2 linked regions of the Homo sapiens genome follow. The protein of the gene in region 2 interacts with the protein of the main gene of each other region in a pairwise test. Each region holds a gene or a part of one and is shown on either strand. Other genes may lie near its edges. The genes, in order: LRP6 and DKK2.

Region 1 (3,831 bases), on a different chromosome or scaffold from region 2:
TGGTTATAGAATAGGAGTGTTTTGTTCTGTGGCATCACTTGAATGCTATTTTATAAATTATTTTAGTGTTTTAAATAACATATTTTTGAAAAAAGTTACGTGTTGTATCTTTTCTGTCAAATCTCATAGTCATTGATATCACAGTTGATAACTATGGAAATGAGTAGTCGCATAAGGAATATATTTTTAACAGGTAGCATTTGTGAATAAAGAACCTCTGTGAAAGAAAGTATGTTTATTAAACTTTTAGCTACAAAGAATATCATGAGATATATTTTATAACAAATTATTTAAGGATGTTTTAAATTGCTTTTTAACAACAGAGAGATGCTTTCAGAGCTGGGAAAAAAAATCCATATTTAAAACAACTTCTTTTTATACTTAAGAAACACACTTTGCCTGTTCTCCTTACTCTTAATTCCCTATAGAGAGAGGGCACGTTGGAGAAAGTATACTGATTTAGGACATTTTAAGGGACTTCCAGTTTGGAAGAACACCAGTTCTTCTGTTTTTCTTCTTAATGAGAATGTTATTCTTCATTCTCACCCCTATGGATCACCATCTGGTTCTCTAGCAACCAGCAAGACCTGGTAAGAAAATTGTTGTATTTAGCTGTGGCTTCTTTATCTAACTCTGAAAAGCAGAAGCCTGTGTTTTGGAGTGTGTTAGAGTCCCTGGCAAGGGGGCCAGGGAGTCAGAGAGATGGAATTGAGTCTGTGTACAGGATGTTTGTTATGACTTGGCATTGATAAATTATCCTCATAGTAAAAGGTGAAGCTGGCTGACTCTTGGTCAAATGGTTTCCATGGCAGACAGCAATTTGGTTTCAATTTAAAACAAAAGGTTTTTGTAATGTTGCTTTTTTCTTTAAAAATGTAGCCTGACTTTAAAACAGAGGATTTATTTTAGCAATAATGGTCTATCTGCTCCCTCACAGCAGTGCAAGTGTACATATTTAACCAGTTTTGAATTTCATGTGTGCATTTGGCATGTAGTAGCCTTAAGTTAACTGTTCTGTTTTGATCACCTTGCTCAAATTAACAGCTCTATGACTTCTTTGTGAAGTTCTAGGCTGGCTCCTTTTGGTTGTTAGCCGGGGCAGTGAATTGTACAAAGTTATTCCTACTTGGTTCCTGCAGTGGCATTTGGGCTGTATTTTCTTCAAGTTGGAATTCATTTATAATTAGCTCTAGAGTGAAAGGGCTGATATTGAGAGGCTTCACTCCTCTTCTCAGTTTTTTGACTTGTAATTGCAGATTGATTCTTGAAGTTTATATGCCAGTATTTTGTTTTGGACTCATTTATTTAGCTGGGAATCTTTTCTTATTCTTTCAGTTGTCAATTTGCTTACTGTCTTTTATTAGCTTCCTATAGTTAGACGATTTTTTGCTGGTGGTTTACTTGAACAATTTAAAATGAAAAAAAGATTGAGCTCAGTATCTTCATTCTTGGTTATGTGGTTAAGTATTTGGGGCTTGGGCTTTAAACAGTTCATAAATAAACCTAATTTAAAATTCAGTGAAATAAAAATCTGAAAATCTTTATTTTTTAATACTGTTGTTAAGTATTAGTTAATATTTCTTGAGTACTTAAATGTTCAGTACTTTCCTGAGTTTTAGATTTATCTCCTTTAATCCTTACAACAACCTTACAAGGTATAGATGGGGAAACTAGGCTTAGCGAGATTAGATATTTTCCCAAAGTTTGTGTAGCTTCTTGAATCAAATTATATTGGATCCACAACTCTTAACCACTGTGTTATGTTTATCTGGTTCCTTCCCTCCATTGCAGCTGTTTGTTTCTCCATAGCTTGCTTTGTCCTCAATTCTGTGAGGTATTGCCCTGTATTTCTCTTTGTTAAGACAGTTTTACTGAGATGTAACTTACATAGCATATAAAATCCATCCATTTTTTAAATTGTACAATTCGGTGACTTTTTAGTAAATTTACAGAGTTACGCAGTTATCACCACAATCCAATTTTAGAACATTCCTATCAAGCACAAAGATTCTTGTCCTAAATTTCTTTATCTTTTTTTAAAAAATGCTTCTTGAACAAAGGATCTATATCCTACATTTCCTTCTCCTTTAATACTGAGCTACTTAGCTTCTTAGTCATTACATAGTCATTATTCATTGTACTTTTAAATAGCTGGATTAATTCCAATGAAACCATAGAATGTATCACAACTTAATTTGGAGAGTTAGCCATTAAACAGCTTGACCTCAGAGTAGACTCTTCTATTTCACTGTATTACTTTCCATTTCCACTCTAAAGAGAGTGCACATCCTTTTGTGTTAATTTATGTATATTTTATATTTATTTTTCAGTTCTTGATTCTTTATCTAGAGCAGGTAAATTTTACCTCTGGGTTTCAAAGTATTCTTCATTTCACTTTGTTGTTCTAGGTGCCACAGAATTATTGCTTTTAGCTCGAAGGACAGACTTGAGACGCATTTCTTTGGATACACCAGATTTTACAGACATTGTTCTGCAGTTAGAAGACATCCGTCATGCCATTGCCATAGATTACGATCCTGTGGAAGGCTACATCTACTGGACTGATGATGAAGTGAGGGCCATACGCCGTTCATTTATAGATGGATCTGGCAGTCAGTTTGTGGTCACTGCTCAAATTGCCCATCCTGATGGTATTGCTGTGGACTGGGTTGCACGAAATCTTTATTGGACAGACACTGGCACTGATCGAATAGAAGTGACAAGGCTCAATGGGACCATGAGGAAGATCTTGATTTCAGAGGACTTAGAGGAACCCCGGGCTATTGTGTTAGATCCCATGGTTGGGTAAGAAGCTCTACTGATAGTAAATTCTGTGTGGTGTTTCTGTTTTTCACAGGTTCCTGAAAACATTGACTAAGATAACATGACATATATATTGGTTTCCAGTAAACAGCTCTTTAATGGCTGTCTATTTTAGGATATGGTGATTAGAATACAATCTCAAGTTTAAAAATTGCTAGTTTTTTGCCTTGGATGTCTTAGATATTTTTTCTTTCTAAATTAAGTCCATGTTTGCTGACTTTGGGTGTTGTCTGCAGATTTTGCTCGGATTGCATCATTACCATGAAAAATGTGGGAAGAAATTGTTTTCAGAACTCTTTCCCTTCCCCTAGAAGCTTTAATTCCATTTTCAGTACTTTATAGTAAGAATATAGCTTACTTTTTTTTCCCTAAATACATGAATGACTTGATTTCCAAAACTTTGCCAGCCCATGCAGCTTTACTTCTAGTTTGTTGTTGTTGTTTGTTTTGTTTTGCCATGCCACCCTGATCATAGTCCAGGGAAGTACAACTTTTTACATACTCAACAATTTTGTTACTTTGAGATTTATTCTGAGGACAAGCATAGTGACAAATTACACCTCAGTATATACCAATGCCTTAGAGCCATCTAAACATCCAGGAGCCGTAAGAATCACTTAGCACTGCAGGAAGAAATAGTTATTTTGAGAATTCAGTTTGCCATCTGACTAATACTGCTGGGATAAGCCTTTTGTGTCAGAGAGATGACAAGCCATCAAGGAAAAGAGAGAGAAAGTTCATGGAAAAGGGCACACAAAATATTTAAAAAAAAAAAAAAAAAAAAGAAGTAAAACTGTAATCTCATTATTGGGAGGCATTTTCAGGATTGGCTCTAGAACACACTGATCTGAAAATTTCCCACAATCTTATATATTGCTGGGATAAATGTCTTAAACACCTCTTCATATGTTTTTTTTTTTTTCCCCTTCCTTGGCATTAACTGATGATACCAGTGTAATAGGAGGGATGGATCTCACCTTTAGAATATCTGAAAGTTACATTTTATTA
Region 2 (3,831 bases):
GCCGTAAGTTCTTGCAAGCTAGTTTAAGGAAATAATATACCTGAAGATCGCTCACTTCTTCTATTTCCCTGAAGAAAGAACAATCTTATTCCGGATAATAAAGTATAACATGAAGATCTAATGTCTCTTGGGAAAGGTTTGGACAGAACTACCACTTTGAGAAGTCATTTTCCCTAATTGTGATATTTTTATTTGTTTTGTCATTTAATGTACTTATTTGCTCATTGATTTTTTAAAATTGTAGATTTGTTCTTTTTTTGCTCTAGATTATTTTGTTTTAAATTAGATACTGCAAAGTATTTAAAAGGATATCTGATGTCCATTTGTCCCTTTTGACTCTGTGGAAAAAGATAAGTAACATTTTTTTAAAAATTGACTACTTTTGTATTTTTGCTGATTTTATTTCTGAATTTATATTTAAAGCACATAGAAAAATCTAAACTATTATTCAGGTTCCCAAAATATAATCTGTTGTGCAGATTCAGGGGTTGTGGAATACATGTTAGAGTAGCAATTCTGTTGTTAGTGATACATAAACTAATTACTTCTATTAAAAAAAATTTAACAGGATATTGCAATCTTTCTGCTTTAAAGTTTTCTTTGATTAAATTTGCCATTACAAAGAAAAGAACCTACCAAATGCTGTATCGACTGACTTCTTTGAAAGAATGCTTTATGTTTGTCCTAACACTACAATTAGAGAAAAATATGTTATTCTGCTCTAGTTCCTGTCAAGAGTGGACAGAGGAGGAACAGAAAATTGACCTTTGCTTACCTTAAATAGTAATACTAAATTTTTCTTATGCATTCTATATTAAATCTTTCTGTGTAATCTTAAAGCGATGCTACATAATGCAATATGTCTATCAATTATGATTAGCCTTACTTCCTTTTGGTTTATGCTTTTGGACTGTTAAAAAAAGGACGTAGTAAGGGGCTCAGGCAGACACAAATATCACATAAACCTTTTGAACAATCAGATAAATAACTAAAAACGGGTTTATCTCCTTGTTATAAGTGAGCACAAGTGACTAGAGGCATAAGGAAGTAAAACAACTCCAACAGGCCGTCAGAAAGTCACAGGTAGAAATTTGATTGTAATTGATTTTGCTGTTAATTCAATACTAAAGAATAAACAGCCATTAGAGACTGAGTCTAAAATGGTAAATATGTTAACTATTATAAATTTCTTCTAAAATGTAACCGATTATTTTAATGTACATTTAAAGCAATTTTGTAAGGAAATGAAGAAGAGCCAATATTTTCCTAGATCAGAATATACTAGCTATAGTTCTATGACATTGCCTTACCTAATCTTAAAATTATAAGTTTCAAAATATCTTGGAAAGGAGAAGAGGGTGCAAAAGTTTGTATTGTAGAAGAATATTCAAGAAGATTATGACAGGGTCAGAGTCACAGCTGGAGTAAGTTTGAGCAACTTTGTCCTCTTGCGCTCTCTAGTCTAACACAAAAATAAAATGATGGATGTTCATATTAGATTATCATTAAAATACTTTTCTTGCTATTCAAGAACTAACTTTCCACTTGTATCAACTATCAATTTTCTATAATTCATGGTGAGAGGAAAGGAACGTTAATGTAGATTATTTCAAATTCCTTTATTTTTTAAAATTTAATCGTAAAAATGATTTGCTTTCCTGATTGTGTTTAGTGTTAGTCAATGTCCAGAGAGGCTATCAGATTATTTACTCCTAAGCAGGAGAAAGTTGGGCTGAGGTTAGAAAAAAAAGTCATGGATAATTTCAGAAAGTAAAGAGATCCCTTACCGAATATTAGAGTATATAGTTTATTTCAGTGAGCACTTTCATGAATGTTTGTGCATACAGATACAGCACACTTTCATTAAAGAAAATGCAGTCTACAAATATTAGTGCTCTTTAGTCAACTCGTTCAAGCTTCTCTTTCAATGAATTTCAAGAATTCTTTTCTCACAACATAACTTCATCCAAACCACTATCCTTGAAGTGTCCCAGTCATATCAGAAAATCATAGAATCTGAATTTGTGTTAAACCATAGCTTCTTTTTAGAAACACATGCCAGAAAGTTTATCTACATTTAAAATATAACTATAAATATCACTATTCTAGTCACTTTTAAAAGAATTGCAAAATGCTACTGCATTGCATTCAAATTAAATTCATCTGCCCGTCTCAGAAAGACAAAACGAGAAGAATAAAATAAGCAATTACAAACACAAATCCAAAGGTTTTTCATTCACACAGAAAAATATGTGAATTGCAAAGCTTGATTTTTTTAGTAGTTTGGGTTTTTAAAATTTGTTTTGAAGGTGGTCCATAAAAGTCAACACCTCAAACTTTAGAGATAGTATCGAGAAATGGCATACTTCATCAAAATATATTTATTCACATGATATTGAAGATTTTGTTTGAAATTACTTTTAATTTAGAACATCTGAAACAGTATCCTTAGAAATTGACATATATATTAAAATGCATAAATATTTATATATTATGTAAATATACTAGTAACAGTCTGAAACTTAATTTAGCCTGTATACATATACAGCACATACATGCAGTACTTATTAGCAATAGCTGCAAATGAAAAGGCAAATTAAAACATTGATGCGAATAATTCAGCAGTTCATTTTTTGCTAATTCTGTATCAATCATCTGAATACTATCACTCTCAATTTCCTATGTCAGTTTCCATTATAACTCATACTGTGTTTTTGAAAGCCAACCTTAAATTGAGAAATGTAACACCTCTGGAGAACAGTGGATTTTCTCTCTCTAAATTTTTTCTAAAATTCAAAGCCACATTTTCTAGAAGTGATATTACAAATAATCCACCTTGCCTATGGAACAAGTAGAATTCCTGTAAATAAGAATGTTTATCTTTATATGAAATCAGGCAACTTTCAATAAAACTATAGAGCTCATATAGTCTCATTTTCACTTTTGTAGATTAACGAATTACTAAATTTATTCAAGAATTTCTTCTGCAGTGGCAATATTTAATTCTCTATCCTGAAAAATTAAAATAGGCTATTTTCAACATCCATTTAAGAGAAAGAACACCAAGGACTGAGTTTCCAATCTGCCTACTTGAAGCTGCATCCTAGAGCTTCTTCCTCCTGTATCCCTGAAAGGAATATATTTCAACATCATCTGTCAAGTATAAAGGGAATTGGGGGAAATAAAACTTATTAGGTCTTAGGATGATACTACATGATTAGCTAATTTGATTAGTTGACACATTAATTCCAATATTTTCAATCATATTTACTATTGTGATGCATAAAAATTCAGCTCAGCTACCTTTCTATTCTAGAGTTTTTCTCTACAAAAGGAAATAACATCTTCCCTGTAATAGCCTTTCTAATTTCCATTTCATTTCTGAAAATAATAATACTAAGAATGTTGGTGACCACATAACTATAGAATAAAAAAGATAAAGAGACTCATAAGTATCCAAAGAATTATTCTTTTCACTTCAAAGAGAAAATATTTTACTATTTGTTTCTTCATAACAGTACATACTTTAGATCATTCGTTAAAGAAGAATACACAAAATAAAATTTTCACATTTGCCAGCTAGCCTCCTGCTATTCAACCCAGTATTTTATTTTGTTTTACCTTCATCTTGAATATGTTAACAATTTTTTTCACAAGCCTAATGTCAAATTTTAACAATCTAGGATTCCAGTTAAGTAAATATAATAAAATATATTCCATAGAACTGCTATGTTATGAAAGGCATATAAGAAATTCAACTCATTTGTGAAATAAATAAATAAATTCTCAATTTAAGGCGATGTAAGTAGACTTCCAAACTCTTTAAGAAGC

The links.
Region 1: the proteins of DKK2 (region 2) and LRP6 interact in binary tests that used the Homo sapiens proteins (3 or more experiments, as listed by UniProt).

What each region holds. Positions count from the first base shown.
Region 1 is NC_000012.12:12,180,017-12,183,847, reverse strand, and holds part of LRP6 (low-density lipoprotein receptor-related protein 6 isoform b precursor), read left to right. Parts: intron 1-2,408; coding exon 2,409-2,805; intron 2,806-3,831. UniProt on the Homo sapiens protein: Component of the Wnt-Fzd-LRP5-LRP6 complex that triggers beta-catenin signaling through inducing aggregation of receptor-ligand complexes into ribosome-sized signalosomes.
Region 2 is NC_000004.12:107,029,554-107,033,384, forward strand, and holds part of DKK2 (dickkopf-related protein 2 precursor), read right to left. Parts: intron 1-3,831. UniProt on the Homo sapiens protein: Antagonizes canonical Wnt signaling by inhibiting LRP5/6 interaction with Wnt and by forming a ternary complex with the transmembrane protein KREMEN that promotes internalization of LRP5/6.